Linked DNA regions of Homo sapiens: region 1 is linked to region 2. The links come from fine-mapping of genetic effects on gene expression. A gene starts in region 2. The other region holds a variant in brackets. All regions are shown on one strand. Distances are from middle to middle.

The links. PIP is the estimated chance that this variant, and not a neighbour inherited with it, causes the effect.
Region 1: its variant is fine-mapped to the expression of HTR3B in whole blood (TOPMed, PIP above 0.99).

The regions. Positions count from the first base shown.
Region 1 is chr11:113,959,293-113,962,215 of GRCh38, reverse strand. No RefSeq gene overlaps it. Among named protein-coding and RNA genes, the nearest start is that of HTR3A, 14 kb to the left of the region's middle. The variant T/GTGATT (reference allele first, on the strand shown) is at 1,136.
Region 2 is chr11:113,903,310-113,906,177 of GRCh38, reverse strand. HTR3B (5-hydroxytryptamine receptor 3B) reads right to left here and starts at 1,382. Exons shown (of 9, transcript NM_006028.5): 1 at 1,193-1,382. The coding sequence starts at 1,244.

The sequences.
Region 1 (2,923 bases), 56 kb before region 2:
ACCCCAGGGCCAAGTGGAAGATCTATGGATGCAGTTGGGTTCACGGTTGATATAGTTTGGATGTTTGTCCCCTCCAAATCTCATGTTTTGAAATGTGATCCCCAAGGTTGGAGGTAAGGCCTAGTGGGAGGAGTTTGTGTCATGGGGGTGGATCCCTCTTGAATGGCTTGGTGCCCTCCCCATGGTGATGAGTGAGTTCTTGCTCGAATTGTTCATACAAGAGCAGGTTGTTGCAGAGCCTAGCTGCCTTGCCCTCTTTCTCTTTCCTCTTCTCTCACCATGTGAAGCCTGCTCCCCTTCACCCTCCACCATCAGTGGAAGTTTCCTGAAGCCCTTACCAGAAGCAGATGCTGGCACTATGCTTCTGGTATAGTCTGCAGAACCATGAGGCAAACAAACTTTTATTTATAAATTATCCAGCCTTGAGTATTCCTTTAGAGCAATGCAAGATGGCCTAAGACAATTGTTGCCCTTTTGCTATTCAAACCATCTCAAAAGCTTTGTGTGGTATCCTGAATAATGGCCCCAAAGATACCCAGGTCCTAATCTCTGGGACCTATAGCTCTTACCTTAGACGGCAAAAGGGAAAATTACAGATGTGATTAAATTAGGGATCTTAAGATGAGAAGTTGTACTGGGTTGCCAGGGTCCGTCCTAAATGTACTGATTTAGTGTCCTTATTAGAGGAAGGCAGAAGGAGATTTGATGATGGAAGAGAAGGCTGTGCATGACAGAAGCAGAAACTGGATTTGAGCCTTGAAGACGGAGGAAGGGGACATGAACTGAAGAATGCCAGTGACCCCTAGAAACTGAAAAAGGCAAGGGCACAGATTCTCCCCTGAGAACCTCCAGAAGGAACCAACTCGGCTGGCAGAATTGGTTTAACCCAGTGAAACTGACTTCGGACTGTTGACCTCCCGATCTGTAAGACAATAAACTTGTGTTGTTTCAAGCAGCTAAATTTATGGTAATTCTTCACCGTGGCAAAGGAAAACGAACCCATGCCATTCCACAGGCAGTTCTCATTTTGCAATCACCAGCACAAACCCTAGTTTTGTTTTCTTACATCACACAAAACCTCAGACCCTCGGAGGCCAAGGTTGGGGCGGGAGGACCCTGCAATATCCTGAGTGAT[T/GTGATT]TTCAGCCCTTCTGGCCTCCTGTTCCTCCTCTGGAGTGCTCTCAGTTGAGCTACCCTCTTCTTCCTCCTCCTCTGGAGCGTTCCACCTCTGTAAATAGACCCTGAAGTGTCTTGCTGGCCTGGAATAGCTTCCTGGAGAGGACCCTCTCAATCTTCCTGGTTCCAAGCATTTAATTAGTCTTAAATGAAGAGTCCTGGAGAAGCGCTCAGCAGTCTGCGTGTATGCTGACATAATCACATTTGCACATTGGCTGTTGCCACTGATTGTCCTCCTGGAAATTTTCCTTTCTCTCTGGGTTCCCTGAAGGTGGTTTCATGCACTCAGAGAGCAGCAGCATTTCCCAAACTTGTCCTCTTGTTTCAGAGGACTCTTCTAAATCCCGTATCTTGATTTGTCATTGCACTGAAAAAGGGTCGAACTGAACAGCCCCAGAGTATTCCTGAACTTCACACATGAACATACTAATGGCTACGACTCAGTGTTCCTAGGCTTGAGATTTTTGTATATTGTCTCATTTATTCACCACAATGACCCTGCAAGGTAGAATTACTATTCCCACCTTTCCGATGAGGAAATGGCAGCTCAGTGCACTGAGGGACTGAGTCGAGCTTGGTGATTAGAAACTATGTGGTAACTGTGAGCACTGTGCCTCGAATATTCCAGTTCTCCCCCTTTCTGGGCACTTGTAAGGATTGTACTTCCTGGCCTTGTGGTGGTTCGGTGGGTTGCACGACAAGGACAGTAGGACACTGAGTTGTGAGCAGAAAGGACGTGTGTATCTTCTTTTTTTTTTTTCTCCTGAGATGGAGGCTCCCTTTGTCTCCCAGGCTAGAGTGCAGTGGTGCAATCTGGGCTCACTGCAACCTCCACCTCCCGGGTTCAAGCGATACTTCTGCCTCAGCCTCCCTAGTAGCTGGAATTACAGGTGCACACCACCATGCCCTGCTAATTTCTGTATTTTTAGTAGAGACGGGTTTCACCATATTGGCCAGGCTGGTCTCAAACTCCTGACCTCGTGATCTGCCCACCTCAGCCTCCCAAAGTGCTGGGATTACAGGCATGAGTCACCGTGCATGGCATTCCTTTTTTTTTTTTTTTTTTTTTTTTTGAGACAGAGTCACTTGCTCTGTCACCCAAGCTAGAGTGCAGTGGTATGATCTAGGCTCACTGCAACCCCCACCTCCTGGGTTCAAGTGATTCTCCTACCTCAGCCTCCCGAGTAGCTAGAACTACAGGCGCCTGCCACCACACCTGCCTAATTCTTGTATTTTTAGTAGAGATGGGGTTCCACCATGTTGGACAGGCTGGTCTTGAACTCCTGACCTTAAATGATCCACACCTACCTCAGCTTCCCAAAGTACTGAGATTACAGGCGTGAGTCACCACACCCAGCCACATGTGTATCTTTCTGTGCTGTGGTGACTGGTGATGTTCGCAATGGAGGCTGCAGCGGCCTGGGTCTCAGGGCGAGGACATAAGATCAGAGCTGGGGCTGACCTCTGTGGGCACAGAGCTTGCTGTCGTAAGCCACAGAGATTTGGGGATCATGTGTTACCACAGCAATAACCTAGCCTGTCCTAACACCATTCAAATGCCAGCTCTGCCACTTCCTAGCTACATGCCTTGGACAGGTTAGTCAGCCTCTCTGAAGGGAGGATGGATACTGTCACCTACCCCAGAGTTTTGGGGAGGACTTAATGAGGTGATCTGAATAAGATTCTTTTTTTTTTTTTGATATGAAGTCTTGCTCTGTCGCCCAGGCTGGAGTGCAGTGGCATGATCTCAGC
Region 2 (2,868 bases):
GAATGATTTATGGTAAAGCACTGGTTATCAGACACTATTAAAACACTTCTTTCTGCTACATTTAGAACAAAAATCATGCATAATACAAAACATTAGAGAGATATTGTTAAGAACTTAGTCTGTTTTCTTACCTTCATTTTTCTATTTTATCTTAGTTTAATGTTCACGATTATTTTCTACTAAGAAACCCATTTGGCATTTAATGACACTTCCTCTGTTTTTATTTTTTACAATTAAGATATGCTTTTATCCTTTATGTTCAACATCCAGGATTTTTATACTTTAATGATAAGTGGCTATTTTTCTTCTCTACCCAATAAAAAAATCATTTCCAGCTTCCTGGCTACCAAATTTCTAACTCATCTCTATAATTGACTCATTCCACTTCCAGTTACATCCTAAAACTTGAGAATTCAGATATGAGCTCTAGGAGAAACCTCAAGAAAGTGGGGTGTTGAGAACACCAGCATAATCATAAATTCTTGATTTGTGCGCATGTACTAAGAATCAATTGTATCCTAACTAAAATGATTCAATTCAGTAGAGTTAATACTGGTGCCATGGAAATATAGTTCTAGAAATTTAGAAAAAAAAGTATTAACTTCTAAATTACTTTTAAGAGGAATTGTAGACTCAAAACTTACCAGTTTATAGTACCTGTCTTTAGAGATATACTCATCACCTATATAGATTTTGTAAGGCGAGATGTTAAGGCCTCTAATACCAAAATGATATACATATATCTGTAGCCATGACAAATCTAGTGGACTTTTTCTCTGGGCTGCTAACAGCTGATAATGAAGCCAAGACTATTTTGGATAATAAAAACATATTATCCACACATAAAAGCAAATTTGAAAAAGAATGCCCCAAACTCTCAATCAACCTGCAGAGAGCTTGATTTCTAGAGAAGCAGAGATTTATCAAGCAATTATAACATTTCAGAGCATATTTTCAGCTATGTGTAAAAAGCCCCACAGTCTGATGCTATATGTATACGTATTTGCAATCATAGGAGCCAAGTCACAAACAAATCATTGTTTTCCATATAGCTTCACAGGACTGGCATTTTACAGACGATGAATAAAAACAAACATGCCTGAGAAGTCCTACAGTACGGTGTATACAAATATTGTCTCTATCTTCTAAGAGTTAATCCTTAATGCCTAGTAAAATTATTAAAAGGACTCACCTGCAGCCACCAGGATGCAGGCCCACAGGGGAGCCATTACACTTGACAACATTCCTGGGCAGATCCCAAAAAGGAGAAATGCAAACTTGCCTACCAGATGGAATGCCGCTCAATTTCTCCTAACAGGGTTCCTCTCCACTCTGTTCTCCTCCTTCTCCGTTTGCCAGTTGATGCTATCCTTACTGGTGCTATTTTGTAAACACTCAGTGGGACCAAAGGCAATACCAGCACCATGCAAATGTTTTGGAATTGATGCCGTCATGAAATCCCTTAACTTCTCCCTTTGGTTCTGCCCCAAGATCAGACCGTGGCCAACATTTCCATTTTCCTGACAGGAGATAGCTAAGTGAATAATGTAATCTAAGAGGAGCCCCTAAGGAGAGGAAATTCCACACTAATATGATTTCCTTTACAGCCTTTACCTAAGGCAGTACTCTTGCTGACATTCAGGACACTAATTTCATTAATAATTGAAATCCAAATAGCTGTTCTAAATCAGACTTATGCAGTAACATCTTCAGCATTTGACAGTGGTTCTTGGGCTCTTGAATTACACAAGGCTAATGGAAACCTGGTATTGTCTAATGAAGAACAACTGCAAACAATGCAATGGAAAAGTGCTTTTTGTTTTTCCTAAGCCCTTTTAATTAAAAGAAACATTGACTTTTGATAAATAGGAGGGCTTCTCAAATTTTCACTGCTCACAATTCAGAAAGTAACCTTCTAGAAAGGATGCTTCTAGGCTTATTGAAGATGAAAACAAAGTTCAACATCATTTAATAAAAGTTTTTTTTTCACTTTTTGATTGAATACGCATTCATTTTTCATTACTAAGGAACATGATGCATAATTCTATACAATAACACTATTTTCCATTTCTAGACACCCCCAGATGCTCTAGAAAGAAAAAACAAATACCATTTCCAACATCTGCCTGCTTTTTTATTAAAAATGAGATTATAGAGGCAAATTTTGATATAAATTTTCACAGAGCCAACCGAAGGGGGGAAAGTATATATTTGATTCCTATTCTCCTAATCACTCAGTCCCTTTGTTTAGAATCCATGAAGTTCTACACCTAATTTTCATCTACCAATAAAATGTAGCCTAATTGCTTTCTTACTGTTGGTGAAGGGAGTGGTATACACAGAAAGAGAGAAAACTAAGATAACCATTTGGTGTTGACTTGGTTTTGGAGGTATCAGTGTGAACCCATGGTTTTCAGTACATTTGCTAAATATATAAATAATTGCAAATAAGCTGGGCGTGGTGGCTCAAGCCTGTAATCCCAGCACTTTGGGAGGCCGAGGCCAGTGGATCACTTGAGGTTAGGAGTTTGAGACCAGCCTGACCAACATGGTGAGCCCCATCTCTACTGAAACTACAAAAATTAGTCAGGCGTGGTGGCACATGCCTGTAATCCCAGCTACTCGGGAGGCTGAGGCAGGGGAATTGTTTGAATCAGGAGGTGGAGGTTGCCATGAACCAAGATCGCGCCACTGCACTCCAGCCTGGGAGACAGAGGGAGACTCCGCCTCAAAAAAAAAAAAAAAAAAAGAAAAGAAAAGAAATAAATACAAATGTAATGTGTGTTTGCACATGTTCATACATGCATATATTCCCTAGCTCTGTCCACTTAGCAGCCTAGGAGAATGACACCCCAATAGTAACAAGCA